7 linked regions of the Homo sapiens genome follow. The protein of the gene in region 6 interacts with the protein of the main gene of each other region in a pairwise test. Each region holds a gene or a part of one and is shown on either strand. Other genes may lie near its edges. The genes, in order: TNS3, PLCG2, SHC2, SH2D1B, PTK6, KIT and SHC3.

Region 1 (3,458 bases), on a different chromosome or scaffold from region 6:
TCAAAGGTCATGATTGGTTCCCCAAAGAAGGTCTGAGAACTCCCCTCCCTCCCTGGACCCACCGATGCCTCTCGAAGCCCTGGAGACAGCCGTTGGGTGAGGGTGGGGCCCCCACTTTTTACCAAACTAGTAAACCTGACATTCCAGGCCCATGAGGGGAAAGAGGATCTTCCAGCTCTGCAAAAACAAGAACAAACAACATCACCGTGAATTGGCCTTTCCTGAAAGTGACTTATCTGACACATCTCTGTAGCCACATGCTTTTTGGGTAGAAGAAGCTGGGCATGGGTGCACCCCACCCCCTAGGGTCCCCATGGGAAAGGGACATGCAAGGAAACAGCACAGAACACGAGGTGGTCCCCATGTCCCTGGCACACTAGCATTCCGGGGGATGAGGAATCCCCAGCCCTTGAGGCAGAGGTGCCGAGTGACTGCCATGCTTCGCCCGTCCGCATGGGCGCTTCTGTCCAGCTGCACCCGAGGCCGGGGGTTTCCCTCACCTCGGTCTTCCCAAGATGGAGATGCTAACGAAACTGAGAAGGGGGCGTATGTTTGACGAAGGTTTGTGCAAGTCAGGCCCTTCTGGAACACAGCAGGGCCTACAACGAGGGGCCTTTGCGATGGGCTGTGAGGATGGGGGTGGTGGGAAGAATTGGCCACGTTGGAGACCCCATGCCACCCCACCATGGTGAGTGCTCTGTGCCTCCTGCTCACCTGTGGTGAGCTGGGCGAGCTGGGCGAGCTGGGCGAGCTGGGCTGGGGAGAGCCTGTGAGGACCGAGAGGAGAAATGAGAAGAAGGAACAAAAATATTATTTCTATGTAATTTATATTTTACTTATGCCAAATTATTTATGATAATTTGCCATTGCTATACTGTACCAGTGTCAAATGCTGCAGCCTGCCAAGCTGTGATTTTGTGAGGCTTGTCCCTATGTAGGATGCACCGCAGGCCCCTGGCCACTGAAAGAGTGTGCAGTGGACTGTGGGTCTCCCATATGCGGTGCCGCCCAAAGGTGGCTTTGCCTCAAGCAACCTACCCTGATGTTTTACTCATTGGAATGTTTTTCCCCGATTGTGGATGACTTCTTTTCTGATGGAGAGAGTCCAGGAGGGATGGAAAACTCCTGGATTTAAGCTCAGCATCCCCCACATGGGCTTTTCGATCATCTTCAGGCCTGAAGCTGCACGACCTGAAGTTCGCCTGCATTTATCAGCCCTCTTTGTGCTGCTCCTTGCCACCTTGGGGTTCCTGCTGGGGACCATGTGTGGTTGTGGCATGTGTGAGCAGAAGGGAGGATGAGGAAAAAGAGAAGAAACCCCGGTACTGACAAGCTGTTTTTGAGTGCCACTGTTTGCCATCATCTAAGCCACTGAATCAAGTGTATTTCAGGCTTATTTCAACATTCCAATGCCCTGGTTTTCCTGCTTGAATCTGTTCGTGGTCAAAGGTTTGGGGGAATTTGTGACCCTGGAACATCCCCAGAGTGAAAGATGGAGCTGGGCCACATCAGAATAAGGCCTTGGCCCCATCCTCTCACAGCCTAGGTGCTCTGCAGGCATGCTGACTGTCCTGATTGCGATCCAGCCCGAAATTCCCTCCTCTGCTTTCAAAAGTCAAATCCCCCATTCTTAGGCCACACTGGTGTCACAAGCTCCTGTCAGGGAGCTGGGGTTTGGGAATGTGCTTTGTGAACTCTGCTTTAAAGTGAGGGGCCGAGGAAAACTTAGAAACAGGCAGAGTTGGAAGCAGCCAAATCACAGTGGGTGTTGTGTGTGTGTGCGTGTGTGCATGCGTGCGTGTATGCGTGTGTGAAAGCAGGTGGACCATTCCACTTTTTAGCTCCTATTGATGCACCAAACCAAGTGCCTCATTTCTGTGCCAAATGTTTGCCTTGGTCGTTGTGGACCTCCTTCTCTAACTTGCGGTGGCATGACTGTCAGGAGGTGCTGGCATTTTCAGCAGATCCTCATGTGTTGACCCTGATGTCTTTAGCAGAGGCCTCTAGCATCTCGGTTTTTCATCCACTGCAGGAATGTGGCCACAGGGAGCAGAGGTTTGTACTTTCCCCAAGAGGTCCTCATCCTGAGACGGTCTCTACCCATGTTTAACCCAAAGAGTGCAGGCCAGGTTCCTTATCCTTCTGATGAAGGATGAGAGAGCTCATTTAGAAGTCAGAGCAAACTAGGGTCTCAGTATTGAGAAACGCAGCCTGCCAGGGAATCACAGAGACATCGGGGTGCCCGCGATGGCCCTCATGAAGCCATGCCTCGACGGCATTCAGGAAGCCCTGCAAACGTGCTTTTTGAACTCATTGGCCAGGTGTGATTTTTACACAAGGTAAACGTGGTCAAGGGCATCGGGGAATTTGCTCCAAGCAGATAGCTCCCTCTGAGGAACCAAAGGAAGCAAGTTTCCACGATTTCTGAAGAGCTGGTATAGGAAGTTTCTTTCTTCCTTTTGTGTTACATGTGCATTAAACAGAACAAGCTGTGTGTCATCACAGATTGTACTGTGGGCTCAGAAACCGTGAGAGAGCCCCCACCGTGGACACCGGCTCTAGGGCCACAGGAAAAGGAACGTTTCCAGGCATTTTGTCTCCAGGGCTCCCGCTGGACAGGCACGTACTGCCCTGGGGAGTAAATGCGGAGAGTTCACGAACTGTGCCCAACGCATGTTATAGCCAGGGTCCTACTAACTACTCAGTAAAAGAACGTATTGTTGTATTCCTCCAGTGTTAAGCTATAGCCATGTTAAAAGTCACTGTGCATTTATTCTCAGCATCAAATACCTTGTAACGTCTTCTCTGCCTTGTTAGTGCATATTTTTACTTTTCTGATACTGTAAAGAATATATCCAGTATGTAAATGAATGTTCTATAAATCTTTTGTATAGTCATTTTCTCTGCTCCTTAAATATCATCTCTATTCAGAGTATAATAAAATTATGAACTTGGTAAGCCTCCGTGAGACGGTATTTGTGTACCCTGAAGTATGTTTGTGTGTGTTTGCACATGTGTGTATGCGTGTGCATGTGTGCACTTTTGTGTATGTGTCTCTGCAAATGTGTGCATGTGCTTGCACAGATGTATCTTTGTCCACATGTGTCTGTGCGTCTGCGTGTGTGCTCGTTCATGAATGTGTGTCTGTGTGTTTACAAATCAGTGGATTCAGTTATAAAATCACAAATGTTTTGCTGTCAGGAATATATTAAGATTTCTGCCCAGAGACCTTTGAAATGTTATATTCAAAGATCTTTGAAGATTAACCACAATGCAGTGTTGATAATGGGTCCTGACATGTTTTCGATGTTGCTATGAATACCCCTACACACACACTGGCTGCAGAAACACACCCCTGAAGTGGGCCAGCTCCTGAAGGACCTCCCAGTGTCTATTGAAGTGGGCACTAAAAGTGAATATTGAGACTGGTGGATTCACTTACACATCAACAGATGCTG
Region 2 (3,500 bases), on a different chromosome or scaffold from region 6:
TTTTTTTTTTTTTTTTTTTTTTTTTGGGACAGAGTCACATTCTGTTGCCTAGGCTAGAGTGCAGTGGCATGATCTCGGCTCACTGCAACCTTTGCCTCCTGGGTTCAAGTGATTCTCCTGCCTCAGCCTCCTGAGTAGCTGGGACTACAGGCGCCTGCCACCATGCCTGGCTAATTTTTTGTATTTTTAGTAGAGACAGGGTTTCACCGTGTTAGCCAGGATGATCTCGATCTCCTGACCTCATGATCCACCCGCCTCAACCTCCCAAAGTGCTGGGATTACAGGCGTGAGCCACCACGCCTGGCCCAATTTTTGTATTTTTAGTAGAGACAGAGTTTCGCCATGTTGGTCAGGCTGGTCTTGAACTCCTGGCTTCTCGCGATCCACCTGCCTTGGCCTCCCAAAGTGCTGGGATTACAGGCGTGAGCCACTGTGCCCAGGCTATTTTATTTTTTATAGAGATGGGGGTCTCATTGTGTTGGCCAGGCTGGTCTCAAACTCCTGACCCCAAGTGATCCTCCTGCCTCAGCCTCCCAAAGTGCTGGGATTTCAGGTGTGAACCACTGTGCTCGGCCCAATGTATTATTTTGGGCTTGAAACAGACCCCTGGGGTCTTCCACTATTCTTTTCACAAATTCTCTTTGCTGAGGTGCCTTTGTCTGGGGAAGCCCACTGTGTGATTTCCATGGTCGTTTCCAGGGCCAGGTTCCAGGTGTCACTGGTGCCATTATCTTGTCCTCTGCGGGTGGCCCACTGACAGCCTGGAGACCGCTCACCTGGTCGTTTTCCCTGGCCCTGTGCCGCAGGTGGTACTATGACAGCCTGAGCCGCGGAGAGGCAGAGGACATGCTGATGAGGATTCCCCGGGACGGGGCCTTCCTGATCCGGAAGCGAGAGGGGAGCGACTCCTATGCCATCACCTTCAGGTGGGTGCGAGGGTGGGAGGCACATGCTCTACAGAGGGGCTTGGCAAGGACAGATGCGGAGAGACAAGGGGGAACTTCAGGTGGAGGCTCACCTGCAGTGCCCTGCCCCCCCAGCATCAGCGACAACAACAACCACCACAGCAAAAGCCGCTGCGAGAATGTGCGCTCCTGCGTGCCAGGCACAGTCTGCGTTCTCCAGGGCAGGATGTTCTGTAGTAACTCACTTTGGCTTCCAGTAACTCTGTGGGGTTGACATGACCATGATCCGTGTTTCTCAGAGGAGGAAACTGAGGCACAGCAAGATTAAGTAACTTGCTGAAGCATGCAGCCACTAAGTGGTGGGGCTGGGATTCGAGCCCAGACAGCCCAGGCAGCCCAGGCCTGTGATGATATAGATCTGGTTTCCTCCCAACTGCAGCTGCTGCCCAACCACCTCTAGGCCTGTGGTTCTCTAATGTTACCCCAAAACGCCAGATTCTCCCACTTCCACTAATGACAAGGAGCCGAGGAGTGACTCAGACTCCGTGTAGCCTACTGTCCCTCCATCTCCCCAGCCCCAGGGTTTCCCTGCATGTTCTTACGGTGGTAACAGTCTGCTATATGTTGAGTTCCTAACCGTGTTCTAGACACTGGACTGCCTTCAAGGCCTCATCTGATTGAATCCTTTGCTACAGCCTGTGAGAGGTAGGTCTAGTTATTGCAAGGGAGGAAACAGGACCAGAGAGGTTAAGTGACCTGCCTGGAGTCACACAGCCTCATAGTCAACTGAGTTTGAGGTTCAGATGCAGGCCTGTCCGTCTCCAAAGCCTAAGCTCTTCACTCCAGAGTCTCTAGCCAGAGGCCTGGGGGCCAAATCTCCAGCCAGAGGCCTGTGGGCGTCTTTTGTACACTGATGTGAAAAACTGAGAAATTTCACTGAAAAACTCAGATTGCTTCTTGTGAAAAATGGGAGGCAGTGGATGCTCTGGGCCTGTGTTTCCACATGGGCGCGGTGGTGCTGGCTGCATGGCAGCTACTGTGGGGTGTGTGGTTTGCCCCTGTCCACTCCTCTCCCCATTCCCTCTGCCCTGATCCCATCCCCTGGTGACCCTGCCAGGCTGCCCCCTGGGCGTTTGGATTTCCCTTCCTCCTTGCCTGCACCACTATGCCTGAGCCACCTCCCTGGGGACCGTGGTGACGGTCATTATCACTATAGTTTACTGAGGACCTACTGTGTACTGGCTCCAGCCAGAGAGCAGCCTCCCACCAGCATGGCTTTTCTGTACTCTCTGTTCCCAAGAGGGTGACCTGGGCTTCTCAGCATTGGTGCCTCTGCCCTTTGCTCTTTCCCCTAAGCCTCTTAGTGGTACCTCCTCAGCCTGGATGGGGAGGAGGTGTGTTCAGTCCGCTGCACACGGATTGAAAACCTGCTGTGTGCCAGGCCCCAGGTGGGGTGTTGGCACTCCCACTGTGCTGTCATCCTGTGCAAATGATGGCAACTAAACCCAACTGGCTGAAACTGAGGTGCCCAAGCGGTGAGACAGCTCTGACACAACCGGATCGGGGCCTCACCTGATGATGGTCAGGATGCCACCTGTATGTGCATGCTGGCGTTACTCTCCATCAGCTTCTGTCTCAGGTGGCTGTACCTTGGGCTGCCAGGACAGTGTCCGGCAGAAAGGATGGCCCCCTCCCTGAGCCAGGTGGCATGATTCTGACAGGCCATCTGGGGATGGGGTTGGGGTCACTTCAATGGGACCGCGTGAATGAAGAGGTTGGGTGGGTCCTCAGGTTGATTGCCTGACTTACATACACGCCCCATTCAGTTTGTGAGCTTGTCTTCCCCATGAGATTGGAGGTGTCTTGAGAATGGAAGTTTTTATTTTTTAGAAGTTAATAGATGTTTGGTGAGCACCTACTGTGTGCCGGGCCCTGTGCTGGGCTCCAGAGATGCAGGAGTGATAAAAACAGCCCAGTCCTTGCTCTCTCAGGCTAATGGTCTGGCAGGGATGAGAGACATCGCCTTACTCCAAGTGTTTCTTGCTTTTGACCTGTTCCTGCTTATGTAACATTGGCTGGGATGTAGTTGGTGGTTGGTGAATGCTGGCTCAGTGAATCAATCAGCAAGGATGGCCGCTCCCCACCTCACCCCATGGCCCACTGTCAGGGAAGCTCAGTCCACACAGTGTTTCTCAAAGAGTTGGGGTGTGAGGACTGATCCTGTTGTATTTGGATGTTGAACTTCCCTGGTCTCTACCCACTGCATGTCTGTCTGGGACCCTAAGTCATTGTAACAATCAAAAATAACATCCCTGCCCCAGGACACACACTTTTTCAAACCCTCTCTGGTCAGGGTATGGGGTGAAGCGTCACTGTCCTTCACTGAGAAGCACTGAGGAGGTTTGAGCACATAAGGAAATCAGTGTAGTATTTTGTGATGAGTGCTACAAAGGGATTGGTCAGGCAGGGTGGTGGAGGGTGAGTAGCTCTCCAGGGAAACGGATGGGGAATTTGGACCAGGCAGTAGGGGAACACAGGTCTGCAGCAACTTCTCCTTGCCCTCTACATATTTGTAAAGTGCCTCTCCTGTGCCAG
Region 3 (3,500 bases), on a different chromosome or scaffold from region 6:
GAGTGAGAGTTAGAGGAGGCCGGGCAGATGGCGCTTCATCGTGAGTGAGATAGTGAGTGAGAGATAGAGGAGGCCGGGCAGATAGATGGCGCTTCATCGTGAGTGAGATAGTGAGTGAGAGATAGAGGAGGCCGGGCAGATAGATGGCGCTTCATCGTGAGTGAGATCGTGAGTGAGAGTTAGAGGAGGCCGGGCAGATAGATGGCGCTTCATCGTGAGTGAGATCGTGAGTGAGAGTTAGAGGAGGCCGGGCAGATAGATGGCGCTTCATCGTGAGTGAGATCGTGAGTGAGAGTTAGAGGAGGCGGGGCAGATAGATGGCGCTTCATCGTGAGTGAGATCGTGAGTGAGAGATAGAGGAGGCGGGGCAGATAGATGGCGCTTCATCGTGAGTGAGATCGTGAGTGAGAGATAGAGGAGGCCGGGCAGATAGATGGCGCTTCATCGTGAGTGAGATCGTGAGTGAGAGATAGAGGAGGCCGGGCAGATAGATGGCGCTTCATCGTGAGTGAGATCGTGAGTGAGAGTTAGAGGAGGCCGGGCAGATAGATGGCGCTTCATCGTGAGTGAGATCGTGAGTGAGAGTTAGAGGAGGCCGGGCAGATGGCGCTTCATCGTGAGTGAGATAGTGAGTGAGAGATAGAGGAGGCCGGGCAGATACACGGCGCCCCATTGTGAGCCTGTGATTGAGTGAGTGAGTGAGATCCTGAGTGAGATCATGAGTGAGTGAGATCATGAGTGAGATCATGAGTGAGTGAGATCATGAGTGAGTGAGATCGTGACTGAGATCATGAGTCTGTGAGTGAGATCATGAGTGAGTGAGATCATGAGATCGTGAGTGAGATGATGAGTCTGAGTGAGATCGTGAGTCTGTGAGTGAGATAGTGAGTGAGACTGAGTGAGATCATGAGTCTGTGAGATAGTGAGCAAGTGAGTGAGATCGTGAGTCTGTGAGTGAGTGAAATCATGAGTGAGATCGTGAGCCTGTGAGATTGTGAGTGAGATTGTGAGTCTGTGAGTAAGTGAAATCATGAGTGAGTGAGTGAGTGAGTCTGAGTGAGAGACCCTCCTCTAGGATCGAGGAGAACAGGAGCAGAAAGAAGAGCTGGAGGTAGGTCCAGGGAACCAGCAGCTGGGGCATCCCTGTCCCCATCCCCCCGAGGGCAGAGGCTGACCTGGTCGAGGGCCGTGAGGGCGCAGGGCTGTGTCAGGGCCAGCCTGGAGTCCACTAGCCCGCCCAGCGGCGGCTCCTTCCCCGGGATGCTGTTGTAGTAATTGTGCTCCAAAGAGTCCTCCTCGTCCCCCCAGGCCGACTCCTCCGGCCCTGCCAGCCTGGGGGACAGACAACAACGGCCATGGCACAGGCAGGGCCCAAGGGGGCTAAAGCCTTACGGCTTGAGCTTCTGGGGGAGCAGGAAATATCTGAGTTCGAATCCCAGCCCCCCACCTGTCACTGAGGGTTCCTACCGGGAAACGCTTCTAGAGCCAGTGACCAGGCCCACTACTTCCTCATCTATAAAATGGAATGTTGCACACATTTCCGAGCTGTAGCACAAAAGGCAGGTCGTTGGCAAACCCAGTCTCCACTCCTTTCTGCCCACCTCCGGCCCCGCCCGGCAGCAGAGGGCATGAGCCAAGTTTATACCCAGAACCAGGACATCACCGGTCAGGGTGGCAACTCTCTGGGATCAAAGCGCCCCCGCCCTCTGGCCCCGATGGCACTGGCAGGAATTGATCCTGCAGGTGCTCCTCAGCAAGCACGGCCCCGAGAGCCAGAGGGGTGCACCCCACCTGGCCCACAGTCGCTGCTGGGATAAATTATGAAGCAGCCTACGGAAGGCAGAGGCAGCTCTGGAGGCAGGCGAGGAGCCCGTCTCAGCTTCGGAGCGTGCTGAGCAACGTGCATCAAGCACGCTGTCCCCGTGCACAAAGGGGTGAGTGTGAGCAGGCGTGCGATGCCGCCTCCCTCGTGACCAGCAGGCTGGGAGCTCATGCACCTGCACCTGCCCTCCCACCATTGGAGGAAGCTGACTTTCTAATGATGAATAGAGACTTAAATAGCTCCTTCTCCAAGGCCAGCTGGCAAACCCCAGCCCAGGGCCAAATCCAGCTCACCGCCTAGATCTGTGTGGCCCACGAGCTAAGAATGGGCTTTCAATCTTTAAATTATCAAAGTTAAGTGTTTGAGAAAACATCTAGAGAATCATATTTTGCAACACGTGGCATTCACACTTCAATGTCTATAAAAAACGTGTTACCAGCACACAGACACGTCCCCCCCTTTACACATGTTCTGCGGTGAGACGGAGGCCGTTTTCTGCCCATTGCGGGAGCCGGCCGCGCGTCTGGAGGAGGGATATTGGTTGTAGCAGCAGGGCTGACAGCCTCAGGCACACCGGGGAGTCAGCTTGCTTAGTCCTCCCCAATCCTGGGGGGCAGGCGGGGATGCGTTTACTCGGGTGTTAACAGCCGAGGAAACAGGATCCTCTGGCTGAGCCATATTCTCACGGGACAGGGAGGGAGGGACAAGGGCAGGACGGAGGCTGAGGCCTGCAGGAGGTGGAGCAGGCTCTGCACCTGGGCAGGTCACTGGGGGTGTCCCCAGGGCACGGGGGAGGCAGCTCTGGTTACCTTTCTGGGGGCAGCGCCACCTTGGGCGGGCTGTGCAGGTACTGCTTGAAGCGCAGCTCGAAAGCTTGGCCCACGGTGCTGATGATGCTCTGTGCCAGGCCCTCACAGCACTCCAGGATGTGGCAGGCTGCGGGCACGTTGGTCATGCAGCCTCCGAGCCACACGGCCGTGCCCCCCAGCCACAGGACCCCCACCGGCCTCCCCGGGGGCCTCACCTCTCTGGTTGATGGGGTCCTTGGCGACGTAGGCCACGTAATCCGTCATGTCCTGGGGGCGGGGAGGGGCCAGCTGGACCTGCCTGGGCCCCCCACCGGGATTCCCAGCTGCCCACCCCAGCAATGCAGAGAGATGGGGCAGTGGATGTGGGCACAGGGTACGTTAGGCGGGCTCTGGGGAAGGATGAGAGGGTCTCGCGGCCGGAGGGGGGCGGCAGGGCTGCAGGTCCACCCCCATCCCTGGCCTCACCGTGTCTCCGCCTGACGCGAAGGAGATGGACGGCATGTGGTGGTTGGCGATGACCTGTGGCGGCAGGAGGCACACGCGGTCATGGGGGCCCCGCTTCGAGGGCAGGGGGCCCGGCAGATGGACCAGGACCACAGCGAAGAGTGGGGCAGGGGCAGGGATGTGGGGATGGAGACGTCTCCTGGACAGGCACCCACTGCAGCCGGGTCCTGGGTCAGCCTGGACGACCGAGGCTGGGATGTGGAGTCCCCAGCAAGGAAGGGACTAGGGCCCTAAGGGATGTGTGGGGTCCGCAGGAGGTCACACGGGAATGTGTGTGAGAGGACAAACCTCCCCCACTGTAACACTTCACACATGTACCTGCCCAGACGCTCACACACACACACCCCAAGCCCCACACACATGCA
Region 4 (3,500 bases), on a different chromosome or scaffold from region 6:
CAAACTTGAATCGTCTGCACAAGGTCACAGAATGAATTTGAAGTCAGCTGTCTGCCCAGGAACCACTCTTGCTATCCTGGCTGCAAACGCAGCAAGCTCTCTGTCTTGGCCCTCAGGGACTAAAAGACAGCACTTCTCAACAAAATGGAAATTGCTCTTAGTAGGATGAAGCTTTTTAGAGATAATGTCACAGAAAAGAGCATTTGTCTGTATTGAGTTTACAAAGTAAGGCATTGGTGGAAATAGGATTAAGATTGCTTTCTGACCCCCACGTGAGAGATTTTACCACAAATGTTTCCAACTCTAATTTCAATCCTCTCCATCTCAAGCTGGGGCTGGTTCTCTTTATTGGCTTTAAAAGGTGAACCACCATCCCCTGATTTGGTTTTTCAAATTTGGAGATCAGTTCCTTTAGGCTTGGAAAGACCTGTTTTGGAGAACCTTCTGCAGTCTGCAAAAATACAAGAAAGGAAATCACTCATTATCATGCAATTGCGTGTGAAATGTGACACTTCTCAAAGCAGTGGGTTTTCAGGGCTGCCCTTCTATGAGCTGAAAAACTGAAAACAAGTGGCTGGAGCTCACACCACTCCCAGTTCACAGAAACTCTCATTTCTAAGACCAACCTCTGACTTGAGCCACTCTGAGTAAAGAGGATTTGCAATCAAGGGATCCCAGCGCAGTCCATAGTATCAAGTGAACCCCATCCTTGGGAAGTTTACCTGGGGCAGTTCTCGCAGATACACTGTGAAGGGTACCCCTGTAAGGGCTTACGTCTGTACCTACAGGCGGGCTTTGCTATCTTAAGGGACTATCGGAAGTGGACTTCTGATGGGAATGCAAAAATGCAATTAAAAAAAATTCCAACTGTTATTTTAAGTTCAGGGGTACATGTGCAGGATGTACAGGTTTGTTACATAGGTAAACGTGTGCCGTAGTGGTTTGCTGCACAGACCATCCCATCACCCAGGTATCAAGCCCAGCATTCACTAGCTATTCTTCCTGATCCTCTCCCTCCTCCCACCCTGAGCCCTCCAACAGGCCCCTGTGTGTGTTGTTCTCCTCTGTGTGTCCATGTGTTCTTATCATTCAGCTCCCACTTACAAGTGAGAACATGCAGTATTTGGTTTTCTGTTCCTGCATTAGTTTGCTAAACATAATGGCCTCCAGCTCCATCCATGTCCCTGCAAAGGACATGATTTCATTCTTTTTTGACCTAAGCTCCTTTCTGATCCCCATGTGAGAGATTTTACCATAAATGCTTCCAACTCTAATTTCGATCCTCTCCATCTCAAGCTGGGGCTGGTTCTCTTTATTGGCTTTAAAAGGTGAACCACCAGCCTCTGATTTGGTTTTTCAAATTTGGAGAACAGTTAGGCTGCTTAGTATTCCATGGTGTATATGTACCACATTTTATTTATCCAGTCTATCACTGATGGGCATTTAGGTTGATTCCATGTCTTTAAAATATGCATTTTGTATACTTTATGAATTTAAAATACACAATTTGTATACTTGATGAATTCACAATCTCCATGTGGGCAAAACAAAACCAAAAAAGTCCCAATGTAAATAGAAAGTGGGAATGGCAACACAACTCAGTTAAGTTGTAAATAGATGTTTTCTGTTTACCAGCTATACACCACGTACTTTTTTTTTTTTTTTTTTTTTTTGAGACGGAGTCTCACTCTGTGGCCCAGGCTGGAGTGCAGTGGTGTGATCTCAGCTCACTGCAAGTTCCGCCTCCCGGGTTCATGCCATTCTCCTGCCTCAGCCTCCCAAGTAGCCGGGATTACAAGCACCATCACCATACCTGGCTAATTTTTTTTTTTTTTTTTTTTGTATTTTTAGTAGAGATGGGGTTTCACTGTGTTAGCCAGGATGGTCTCGATCTCCTGACCTCATGATCTGCCTGCCTCAGCCTCCCAAAGTACTGGGATTACAGGCGGGAGCCACCATGCCTGGCCCACCAAGCACTATTTTCTAATATAACCTTTTAGAAATAATTTTAAAATGAAAAGAATTTTCTGGCTAGGCTCAGTGGCTCATGCCTGTAATCCCAGCCCTTTGGGAGGCCAAGGTGGGTGGATCACTTGAGGTCAGGAGTTTGAGACCAGCCTGGTCAACATGGCAAAACTCCGTCTCTACTAAAAATACAAAAAATTAGCTGGGCATGGTAGCAGACGCCTGTAATCCCAGCTACTCGGGAGGTTGAGCCAGGAGAATCGCTTGAACCAGGACGCGGAAGTTGCAGTGAGCCGAGATCACGCCACTGCACTCCAGTCTGGGTGACAGCAAGACTCTGTCTTACACACCCACACACACATGAATTTTCTTCCTCTACTTTTGTGTATTTGGTTTTCTTGATCGTCACTGTGGTTTTCATATGGCCACCAAGTCAGACTAGAGAAAGGGGTTGGTGATCAGAAGGTTTTCTGATATGCGCCTGATTAACCTCTGTATTAGAGGTACAGGCTGACATCAAAGTCATCTGCAAGGAGGTTCCTTTAATGCAGTCATTTCAACAAAAGGCATCACTGCAGGCTTCTAAGCTCAAAGCTGCTCCCCAGTGAAACGCCTCTTTGTGTCTGAGTTACAAATGATTTGGATGTCTCCCTCTATTTTGTCCACACAAGAGACAAAACAGGGTACTGAGGAATTATCCAGAATTTCCCAAAGAATAAACAGAAAAAAAAGTCTTAAAATAAGTTGCTTTTTATAAGACATTTTATCTTGAAATTATTTCAGACATAGCAAAGTTGCAAAAATAATTTTTAAAAATTACCATATATTTCACCCACACCCCAATGTTAACATTTTATTATATTTGCTTTTTATTCTCTTTCCAAATATATACACATATATTGTGCATGTATATATACACATATATATAAGCTATTTTCAAAGTTAATTTGCAGACATAATATCCCTTTAAATACTTCAGTATTTCTTCAAAAGTAAGGATATTACATAACCATACTACAATGATTAAAATCAGGAAATTAACCTGGATACAGTACTATTTGTTAATCTTATTCAAAATTTGAATTTATTCAAATTTTGTCAACTGCCTCAATAATGTCCTCTATAGCAAAAGAAAAATAGTATAAGTGAGGTGTTTGGGGATCATTTTATATTCTAGTCTCTTTCAGATATTCAGAGTAAACATTAATATACTGAAGATTCTTAGAAATCTGTAGTCTCCTTAACCTTATATGTAAGTGTTTGAGAAAGATTATTTTAGGATTCTCTGTTAGCAGTTATGTTTATTATACTCTACTTCTTAAGCCAGAGAACTAAATTTAAAAGAAGCAAAATGTTTTTCTGCTTAGCTCTCAGTAAACCAGAAAAATTAAACAAACCCTAAGACTTTCAGCTATCTGATGCTTCCCACTATATTTTCGTACAACTATTGGGCACACTTGACTCCCTAAACACTCTGACCTCTTTCCACCGTCCCTTTCTAGCTCCATCTTGCATCATTGTTGAGTCTTCTAATT
Region 5 (3,438 bases), on a different chromosome or scaffold from region 6:
AGTGGAGCAGAGCCTGGGGTCAGCTGAGCCAGCTGAGGTGGGGAAGGGTTGGGGAGGCTGGGCCATGTCTCATCTGCCTCCAAGCTCTGCGGGCTCAGAGGAGGGGCCGGGGCAAAGGGCAGCTGGCCTGATTGAAAATTGGAACTGCAGGCCAGCTACCGCCCTTCTGGAAGGCAACTGTTTATCACGAACCAAGGAGCAAGCTGGGCGTGGTGGCTCACGCCTGTAATCCCAGCACTTTGAGAGGCTGAGGCGGATGGATCACGAGGTCAGGAGATCGAGACCATCCTGGCTAACACGGTGAAACCCCATCTCTACTAAAAATACAAAAAATTAGCCGGGCGTGGTGGCGGGCGCCTGTAGTCCCAGCTACTCGGGAGGCTGAGGCAGGAGAATGGCGTGAACCCGGGAGGCGGAGCTTGCAGTGAGCCGAGATCACGCCACTGCACTCCAGCCTGGGCGACAGAGCCAGACTCCGTCTCAAAAAAAAAAAAAAAAAATATATATATATATATATATATATATAATTAGCTGGGCGTGGTGACAGGTGCCTGTAATCTCAGCTACTCAGGTGGCTGAGGCAGGAGAATCATTTGAACCCAGGAGGTGGAGGTTACAGTGAGCCGAGACTGCGCCATTGCACTCCAGCCTGGGCGACAGAGTGAGACTCCGTCTCAAAAAAAAAAAAAAGAACCAAGGAGCAGTTCCTAGTGGTCTAGCCCAGCGATTTCCCTTCTGGAAGTTTGTGATGACGCGGGAGGAGCTGGACGCAGAAGGACCAGCGAAGAGGCTCATGACTGCGTGATGTAGGCAGTGGGAACTCGAACAGGAGAATGGCTGTCAGCGGCTTGCGGCCTGGTGGTGCCTGTTTTACCCCACATTCCCTCCCGGAGGACCCTGAAGGGCGTGGGGACTGTCTGAGATGATCAAGCCCTTTGTGTGAGGGCGAGGGGTACGGAGCCTTTCGCTCAGAGCGCAAACGTGCGTGGTGCCTCAGTGTAGCTCTCCTCAGACACACACGGCATTTTTCCTATACCACAACGTTCCCTCCCATTCTAACATCGGAATCCAAACTGCGCCTTCACGCACGGGCATCTCCATTCCCTGGCAGCGATTGTCTTTGGTTTTGGTGAGAAAGGAAATAATGGAACTTAGAGAGGATGAAGTCTTTGAGCCAATGTGATCTGTGTGTGTCTGTGTGTGTGTCTGGATCAGTGTGTGTCTGTGTGTGTGTGTGTCTGTGTGTGTCCGTGTGATCTGTGTGTGTGTCTGTGTGTGTCCGTGTGATCTGTTTTGTGTGTCTCTGTGTGTGTGTCTGTGTCTATGTGTATGTCTGTGTGTGTCATGTGATGTGTCTTGTGTGTGTGTCTGTGTGTGCATGTGTATGTCTGTGTGCATGTGTGTGTGCATGTGTGTCTGTGCGTGTGTGTCTCTGTGTGTCTGTGTCTGTGTCTGTGTGTGCATGTGTGTGTCTGTGTGTCTGTGTGTCTACGTGTGTGTGTGTGTAGACGTGGGGGGGGGGTGTGCACTTTATTTCCTCACGTGCCCCCGCTGCCTCCAGCAAGAGCCCCGGCCCATGCCACTCACCGCGGAGCAGCTCCAGCAGGCTGCCCTTGGCCATGAGCTCCGTGATGATGTACACGGGGTCCCCCACGGACACCACGGCGTACAGCGCCAGGATGTGTTTGTGCCGCAGCTTCTTCATGGCCTGGATCTCCGACTGCAGCATCTGCTGGTGCAGGAGGTTGTCTGCGGGGACGGGTGGCCTCGGTGGATGCAGCCCCTGACCCCCCAGGCCCCAAGGAAGAGGCCAAGGCCCTGCCCCCACACACAGCAGCCATCACACCCAGCAGCTGTGCAGGACACACAGACCTCCTGCCCCCGACAGGGCACCTGGCTCCCGAGGCCACGAAATGGCAGATGCAGCCGGCCCCACAGGGCCCCAGCCTGGCGTACCCACGGGGCTGTGGTGGCCACCCGATTTCTTCCTGTGCCCGGCCCAGACCTCTGACATAGAGGCCAGACCTCTGCTGGGGCCCAGACGGGTTCCAGGGAAGTTTTACCCATTTCCAGTGATCTATTTTAATGGCTTTCCATTACGTCAAGGATTTTAAATTTTCTTTCTTTCTTTCTTTTTTTTTTTTCCCAAGACGGGGTCTTGCTCTGTCGCCCAGGCTGGAGTGCAATGGCGCGATCTCAGCTCACTGCAATCTCCGCCTCCTGGGTTGAAGCGATTCTCCTGCCTCAGCCTCCCGAGTAGCTGGGACTACAGGCACATGCCTCCACACTCGGCTAATTTTTGTATTTTTAGTAGAGACGTGGTTTCCCCATGTTGGCCAGGCTGGTCTCAAACTCCTGACCTCGTGATCCGCCCACCTTGGCTTCCCAAAGTGTGGGGATTACAGATGTGAGCCACCGTGCCCGGCCTAAAATTTTCTTTTATAATAAATGTATTTAGGTAAAAACATAGGTGCAATTGAAAGGGAACCACTCTCGCATGGACGCTGTGGGTGCTGCTTGGGGCTCGAGGCCAGAGGTCCCTGTTGGCGGGGTGGGAGGGTGGCCCAGGGCAGGCACGGGGCCACACAGAGCCCTGATCGGGGCCCACTCACCTCGAGAAATCACCTTAATGGCCACCTGGACCCGGTCTTTCCAGAGCCCCTCGAAGACCTCCCCAAAGTAGCCGGACCCCAGCTTCCTGCAGAGCGTGAACTCCTCCCTCGGCCTCTCCCAGTCATCCCAATGGGGCAGGGGCTCAGGCTCGTGCTGGAGGAAGAGTCGGGGACACAGGGCAGGGGCTCATCCTTCAGGAAGTGCCAGTCTGAAGCCAGCACAGGGAGCCTGGATTTAGCCTCAGATTTAGGGCCACGATCAGCCTGGGTTGGGGGTTTCTGAGTGTCTGACACAAGGGTGGACTCTCCTGGGGGCTGCCCCCAGCCCAGCATGAAACACCCAGACAGACCGGAGCCAGGACCCTGCAGAGTGCCGCTGGCCTCTCCGAGAGTGGCCAGGCCCGGGGATGGTCTCCTGGCCCCACCCCCAACTCAGGCAAACACCTGTGCTCTGCAGAACCATGGGCTTCCCTCCAGTGGGCCCCAGGTCAGTGAGTCAGGACCCCTCCCATGCTGCCCGGCCAACCTCTCCCAGTAGGAAATGCCAGCCTGTGACCCCCCAGCCTGACCCCGCGTGACCAAGTCAGGGCGGAGCGGCTACCTTCCGGCAGGGCGCGGCCAGCCGCAGGCCGTGGGACAGGCTCTGGGCCCTGTGGTAGTTCACAAGCTCGGGCAGGCTGAGGAAGGACACCGCCTCGTTCAGGTGCAGCCGGCCCCCGGCACGCCGCCAGATCTTGTAGTGCCGCACAGCCTGCGTGTCCCGCACTGGGAGGGAGAGCGTGAGCTGTGTGGCCACCCCAACTCCGACGCCTCCCTGCGTCCCCAG
Region 6 (3,259 bases):
ACAGGTCACTTTTCACCCCTTCCCTTTCCTTTCAGGAGACATTTCTGCAGGTGTAGATGTCACGTCAATAAAGACAGTCATGACTGAGGGTGTGTGGGTGCCTCATTCTTAATAAGATTATGTGATTCAGGGTGCTTCCTTTTGTTTCAAGCTGAAGAACTCTCAGCCTCTGTTTGGGTTCCAGTGGTCTGGACGGTACCAATTGGGCATGCATAATGTTTCACCCACATGACAGCACCCAGCTCATACATACTAAGCACCTTCTCTGTATCTATTTTTCAATTTAAATAGAGACCTCAGGTTGTAAGACTAAAATGAGAAAATATCACACGTATGAAAATTCTTAATATCTGTTGAATCTCGAAGCATGTAAATCCTAGCGTGATCTGATAGCCCTGCACATATTTTATGAAAACTGCGTACAAAACTTTGTCAGGATGATTGCACTTTAATGCTTTAAAGTTTAATCTCAACGAATCTCAACAATCAAATGACTCCACTTGATTTATATATGTACATTTTATTAGAATTCTTCAGAACTGTCAACAATTGGACAACATACAGGAATAAAACACGTGGAACACCAACATCCTTTAAACTTACGCCGCTTATGTATTTACACATAAAGTTACTGTATATATAAAAAATATTTTCAAGGACTCATGGGCTTGGGAATATTCAAAAGACATTATTGCTACATTTCAATATTTACAAAAAAAGCCACAAAATAATTTCAAACATTAAGCCACTGCAAAGAAACATCTGATGTAAGAAAAAATTATAAAAATATAAACTTTCAAGAATATCCAAGACAAAACTCTCAATGAAGTGCCCCTGAAGTACCTAGACATCTATAACTAACAACCACTTTTCTTACTATCATTGAAGTCAATAGAAACACAAAGGAATTTTTCAGACAAAGTATGGCAAACAACAATCTCTTGGGTGACAACACAACCCCAAAATCTGTTAACTTTGGAAAGGTGCGAGAGCATAGAACTCCAGTGCAAATGGTTACTTCCAGATAACGGCCACAGTTCTCTAAATGTAGTCTAAGAAATGTAGAAGGGGGAAACCATAAAGGCAACATACCTGAATCTTTCAAGACAACACACAAACTCTGCCATGTACACATTTGCCTTTTATATTGGGCAGTGAGGAAGGGGAGTTTTTTGTTTTGTTTTGTTTTGTTTTTAAAGAGGTAAACTACAAGAATAATATCCAGGCTACAGTCTAAAGGGTAAAATTTAAATGTTTCAGTGAGACAGTAGCATTATGGAAGGTCTAAGGAACAGGTACAGTAAGATGAGTCTAAATAACAGAGTGCCTTAAGTGCAGGTGAACTGCAAATACATAGGGACTGATGCCTTCCACTTCCTCTGCACCACTATGGAAGCTTCTGGTAAGCTACTCTAGACAGCTATGTGAAAAGAAACAAGAGCAGTACTAATAATGAAAGCCAAGTTACTTTTCAGGTACTAAAGGACCCTCTTGGACTCAGGGCAAAAATACCCCTCCAAATATTTGTCTACACACATACAAACGTACATACACATATATAGATACTGGCCCGGTGTCCAGGACATGCCTGCGAAGGAGGCTAAACCTATACTTTATTTCCTGCTACATAAGAATCCAAACTAAGATGGCAGTGTTTTCCCACTCCTGTGGGAGCCATGCAGTGAATCAGTAACTTTGTCAAACAGCATCAAATCCATTGAGTACAATGCCATTCTGAAGCTGATAGGCTTGTTCCACAGAATCTACAGAATAAGTTCATCAGCTAAAAGAGGAGATTTTGTTCAAACTGTGCTTTGTGGTTATATTGTTTCCTTAAAAAATGGTATTAACTGTTTCCTTCAAACTTATATGGCTCTTAATCTACTTCTATACACAGTGGACATAATGCCAGGGTTGTATACAGAAACGAAACCTTATGGTGTTTTCCCCTCAAATGTATGAACACGGACAATTTATAGATGCGTATATACAAGTGCTGGCTAGGGAGGCCTTCTCTCCAATTCAATGCTCTAATAGCAAACTCTATTTAAAAACCAGGTCGGTAGTATAAAAGCTCATGCAGTGGTCCACAGAAGAGCATCTTTTGTTCACACTTGGGGATCATTTTTTTCATGGCCTATGTCTCATTCCCAGCATGAAATACTAGATTTCTTAAGCCCAGGTGTTCATACTCTGTCCTTTGTTCTAATGATGTTCTGTTTTCCACATAAAGGACTTAGGTTTTCAGCTTCTAATCTTGTATCATCATACTACTATGGATGGTTCTGAAGGCCAACTGTGATTACTACCATTTATTCAGGTAAACTATCAACCATATTTTTGGGCAGAATTGGAGAAGCCTTGGAAAGGACTCTGGCCCCCAGTCCATACCTCCCTCTCTTTTTCCAAATCAGAATGTTTTCTGTTCATGGTAGAAGCTACGTTGCTATTGGGAATATATACAGTTGGAACCTTTGCAATAGGATGGTGGCTGATGACAAAAATCATCGGCCACTAAAGTGTGCTCAGAAAGACAGGATTGCAGTGGGGTGCCCACTATCCTGGAGTTGGATGCAAGTTGAAAGAAAAGAAAATAACCATCATGGAAGCCAAAAGAAGAGATCATTCCTGGAGGGGTGACCCAAACACTGATTCTGCTCAGACATCGTCGTGCACAAGCAGAGGCTGGGAGGAGGAAGCGGTGCTGCCGACAGAATTGATCCGCACAGAATGGTCTACCACGGGCTTCTGTCGGTTGGGGCTGCAGTTTGCTAAGTTGGAGTAAATCTGGAGAAAACAAGCCCATAGTCAATACAGCAGTCCCTACAACGAACATAGCAACAAAAGGCATACTTACAGTGTCAAGATCACAACTAACTGATGGAAACTCTTAAGAGAGAAGTGGTTTCCAAGAACTTTGTGGCCAAAACCCAAGTCATACTGACAAAACAAATATAAGCTTTGTTTTCCCCCTTCATTTTTCCAAGGAAATAACTTTATACAAGAAGTGGGGACAAAACATGCACAAGCTTAGCTCTTCTAAAAGGGCACACCAGGCACCAAGCACTATCTTACCTATTTAAAAGGCTTGTAAATCTCTCCAGCAACTACAACCCAATAACCAATGTAATTTGCTGGGAAACCCACGGCCCTTCCAGGGGTCTCTTGTCAAGAATCAAAGCAACTGGGTGGAAAATGCTGTTCAATTTGAAACATGTTTTGACACCCAGAAGAACAAGCTTTAACCCAAAAATTATCA
Region 7 (3,500 bases), on a different chromosome or scaffold from region 6:
TCCCAGTGGACCCTCAGTGGATCCTTGTCACACTGTTGTTGTTTTGGTTGGGAGGGGAGAGGCAAAATCACAGTGGGGTCAAAATGTTTTGTTTTGTTTTTTAACTCAACAGAAAATGAGTAATTATGAACTTGTAAGACCAAAACCAACTTGTAAGGCATATTGTGCAGCTGCACATCCCCACACCCCATCACACACACACAGACACAGACACACACACACACGAAGACACAGACACACACAGACACACACACACAGACACACACACACACAGACACACACACACACGATGGTCAACATCCACCCACTCAGTAGGCTGTTCCTATGCTCACTGCCTCCCACCTTAAAGATATTATTTTTCCACCACATACTATAGAACTCTTATGATAAATTGCAAAATTGTTTTCTTGTCCTTTACCCAGGAAACACACATAACTGGTCATTTCTTTCCATTGCATCTGAAACCATTTTATTTATGAATTAAATAATTCACTAACTCTACTGCCCTTGGGTATTTTCATTGAACATGCTGGCTCTTCCTTGTTGCTTTCCTCTGAGCCCCACCATGGACTTGGATCCTTGTACTGCAGGGTCTGGCCCTGGCCCCAGTGATCCAGCAGGTGTCCATCAGGTGAGCACACTCCTGATACTGCAGTGTGCTTCCCTGGGCCCGTCTCTTCCAATTACATTAGATGCTGGTGCAAAAAACAATACAGATGCCACCATTTCTGCCTCGGCCAGGCCTCCAACCCATAGAGACCAACCCCAGCACAACCCTGCCTTCAACTTGCTGCAGCCAGGGACAGCCAGGTCCAGAGAGGTGAGCTGACTGCTCTAGCCCCACACTAAGCTGGCGGTGGAGCTGCAGCCCAGGTGTCCTGCCTTTCACCAGTCCAGGACCTTCACCAGGCCAGGTGTCTGCTCTAATGTCCCCTACCCTAAGCCAGGCACTGCAGGCCAGCAGCACCGGCACATCCTGCAGGGCCAGCCTGTTGGCTGGAAAGCCAGTCTTGCAAGTGGGTTCACGTGTTTGCTGCCCAGGCTTTCTGTTCCCAGGACTCTGCTTTAATGATAGTAATCATATATTCCTCAAAACTATGACATATACTCAAAGGTAAGACACCGTGCGGAGGCAGAGAAGCAGCCATCTGTTCTTTATAGGATGGAAGTTTTGTCGTAGCTTATCTTTTTCTTAAACATGAATATAAAAGAAATGACTGAGATAATTGGGTATTTCTAGAAATATGACATTTCCTATTTTCTAACAAGAAAGAAAACAGCCCCCATCCAAAGTCATCACAAGTCATCTACCTGTGGGCTGTGGGGTGTGTGTGTTGTGTGTGTGCAGTGTCTGTATGGTTGTGTGTGGGTGCATGGTGTGTATGTGCATATGTGTGTGTATATGTGAGGTGTGTGTGTGGTTTGTGTATATGTGTGTGGTGTGTGTGTGCCTTTAACACATCTATGTTTGTGTCACATAAAAAGAGACAACTCACTATCCAGATCAAATTAATAACTTTATATATTAATGTCAAAAGAAATTCTTAAACTATTTTTCAAACCATTTAGATATTTACGTGTAAGCCATCCATATCATAAGATTTCGAAAGAATTTTGAGAAAAAAATCAACTTTTTAAAGTTCAACTCCACATCAAAATCAATTTTTCAGTCTAGAGGTAAAATAAAATTCTACAATATTATAGTAGAATTGATATAGTTATTTTAATATAGTTAAAATAACTTTTGTATGATCTTTGCTCACAGTTACCAAAAGAATACAGCTCTGAGAAAATGAAAATTTAAGATATTTTTATACACTTTGTCAAGTGAAAAAAATTAAGAATAAATTTTTGAGTAAATGTAATTTACGAAGACCACCTATAAAAGGCAGTAGAGCATTTACAAATAAAGCAAATGATTTATACCACCCCAAATATCATTAGATGCACAAATGGGAGTAATAAAATAATTTTTAAAGAGTCCTTGTAAAAACAGAGCTTTGTTCCAAAAGGGAAGCATATCAGGAAGGGTCCAGTGTATCAGGAAATAATGCAGTACTTTTCTGATCGTTAAATCTCCTATAAATAGCTCGCCATTTTCACTGTCAGTAAATATACAACACTCCACAAGCTGAAACCTATGTAACTTCGCTGGAGCCTTCACAGGTGTTTATGAATGGCGTAATCTGCTGGCTCACTGAATGCTGACGCTGTTGGAATAGCTCTGAGCAGTGGGCACCTAAAACCATTGCTTTTACATTGGGCCTCCTGATTCTTGCCCTTGGCACTTGGGTCATTTCTAAATATGGTCACTTCTTATCCTTTTGAAGTCTGTGCTGTGATGTGCTCTAAGAAGGAGCCCGTCTTTTGGGGACCACGCTGGGGCCAAAGGCAAACCCGGTGCAGCCCACACAGCATTGCTTCCTGCTCCAGCCTCGCCCCTCCAGCAGGCAGTTTCAGAGCTGAATGTCAAGGCTGTGCTTGTCTTCAGATGGCCCACTGGCTCTTTAAAAACTGAACCCCTGCCTCCTGTCCCCTGCACTGTTCATATTCCTTCCTACAGTTTCCCCACCGTGGATCTGAGGACAGAGAAGGTGGAGGACCAGGATATTGCCTTTTGAACCTGCTAAAGACCAGCAGCCTCCTTGAGTGATTGGGGTCCTACCCAGGCTTGACTTTAGGATAAGATAATTTAAAGGTGGGCAGCACCGTAATCAATACTCATTGGTATTTCTTTTAGGTCCAAATATCAAATACTTTTAAAATGGAAATTTAATGAAAATAGTCATTGTTCTTTGCTGTTGGATTTTTCTTTTCTATCAAGAGCATAGTTCCTTGTTCTTTCTTTTACGTCACCAAAAGAAAAAAGGAAATGTCAAGATACTTAGGGGAGTAAAAAGGTGCTGCCAATGAGGCCCAGCTGAAAAGAATATAAACCTCTAGGCAGAGTAAGCTGCAGCCTTTCTGTGTGCATAGCCCCATTCTGTTATTTAGCAGCAAACTCAATGATGGACCAATTAGACATGCTTTGAGCTTTGAATTCTACTGTTGCTCAGGAACTTCTTCCATGTTTAAATTTTAAGTCCTTCATTAATTCACATTCTAAGCTGTTGCTCAAATAGTTTAATGTTTCCTAGATGATCAAAATTCACCAGACTTCTGTATTTTACAGTCCCTGTTCTCAGATTAAGTTGAAATATTTTTGAATTATAATTCATATGTGCAATATCCTAATATCACCTGTAAGTAGGTATTTCTTTGAGGGGGAAAATCTATAATACAGTATATAAATTTTCCAGGAAACTAGAAAACATTTGGGGGCTTTATTTTTAATTTAGAAAAAAATTATATCAAAGAGAATAATGCATCCTTTCCCAAACCCTAAACCTTTATATTTTACTATTGGTATCTAGTCATATGATAAAGATGGCCCATTTCTATCTACCAGAAATCTTTTAAAGTAAGGATACCGGTAGAACTATTCAAAAATTCTAAATAAC

What was found.
Region 1: the proteins of KIT (region 6) and TNS3 interact in binary tests that used the Homo sapiens proteins (3 or more experiments, as listed by UniProt).
Region 2: the proteins of KIT (region 6) and PLCG2 interact in binary tests that used the Homo sapiens proteins (3 or more experiments, as listed by UniProt).
Region 3: the proteins of KIT (region 6) and SHC2 interact in binary tests that used the Homo sapiens proteins (3 or more experiments, as listed by UniProt).
Region 4: the proteins of KIT (region 6) and SH2D1B interact in binary tests that used the Homo sapiens proteins (3 or more experiments, as listed by UniProt).
Region 5: the proteins of KIT (region 6) and PTK6 interact in binary tests that used the Homo sapiens proteins (3 or more experiments, as listed by UniProt).
Region 7: the proteins of KIT (region 6) and SHC3 interact in binary tests that used the Homo sapiens proteins (3 or more experiments, as listed by UniProt).

What each region holds. Positions count from the first base shown.
Region 1 is NC_000007.14:47,274,654-47,278,111, reverse strand, and holds the end of TNS3 (tensin-3), read left to right. Parts: coding exon 1-36; 3' UTR 37-2,958; downstream 2,959-3,458. UniProt on the Homo sapiens protein: May act as a protein phosphatase and/or a lipid phosphatase. Involved in the dissociation of the integrin-tensin-actin complex. EGF activates TNS4 and down-regulates TNS3 which results in capping the tail of ITGB1.
Region 2 is NC_000016.10:81,911,791-81,915,290, forward strand, and holds part of PLCG2 (1-phosphatidylinositol 4,5-bisphosphate phosphodiesterase gamma-2), read left to right. Parts: intron 1-806; coding exon 807-926; intron 927-3,500. UniProt on the Homo sapiens protein: The production of the second messenger molecules diacylglycerol (DAG) and inositol 1,4,5-trisphosphate (IP3) is mediated by activated phosphatidylinositol-specific phospholipase C enzymes. It is a crucial enzyme in transmembrane signaling.
Region 3 is NC_000019.10:433,534-437,033, forward strand, and holds part of SHC2 (SHC-transforming protein 2), read right to left. Parts: intron 3,151-3,500; coding exon 3,097-3,150; intron 2,899-3,096; coding exon 2,847-2,898; intron 2,759-2,846; coding exon 2,632-2,758; intron 1,333-2,631; coding exon 1,176-1,332; intron 1-1,175. UniProt on the Homo sapiens protein: Signaling adapter that couples activated growth factor receptors to signaling pathway in neurons. Involved in the signal transduction pathways of neurotrophin-activated Trk receptors in cortical neurons.
Region 4 is NC_000001.11:162,398,637-162,402,136, forward strand, and holds part of SH2D1B (SH2 domain-containing protein 1B), read right to left. Parts: intron 452-3,500; coding exon 287-451; intron 1-286. UniProt on the Homo sapiens protein: Cytoplasmic adapter regulating receptors of the signaling lymphocytic activation molecule (SLAM) family such as CD84, SLAMF1, LY9 and CD244. In SLAM signaling seems to cooperate with SH2D1A/SAP.
Region 5 is NC_000020.11:63,530,939-63,534,376, forward strand, and holds part of PTK6 (protein-tyrosine kinase 6), read right to left. Parts: intron 3,378-3,438; coding exon 3,214-3,377; intron 2,767-3,213; coding exon 2,613-2,766; intron 1,750-2,612; coding exon 1,588-1,749; intron 1-1,587. UniProt on the Homo sapiens protein: Non-receptor tyrosine-protein kinase implicated in the regulation of a variety of signaling pathways that control the differentiation and maintenance of normal epithelia, as well as tumor growth.
Region 6 is NC_000004.12:54,737,957-54,741,215, reverse strand, and holds the end of KIT (mast/stem cell growth factor receptor Kit isoform 1 precursor), read right to left. Parts: intron 2,788-3,259; coding exon 2,659-2,787; 3' UTR 501-2,658; downstream 1-500. UniProt on the Homo sapiens protein: Tyrosine-protein kinase that acts as a cell-surface receptor for the cytokine KITLG/SCF and plays an essential role in the regulation of cell survival and proliferation, hematopoiesis, stem cell maintenance, gametogenesis, mast cell development, migration and function, and in melanogenesis.
Region 7 is NC_000009.12:89,172,319-89,175,818, forward strand, and holds part of SHC3 (SHC-transforming protein 3), read right to left. Parts: intron 1-3,500. UniProt on the Homo sapiens protein: Signaling adapter that couples activated growth factor receptors to signaling pathway in neurons. Involved in the signal transduction pathways of neurotrophin-activated Trk receptors in cortical neurons.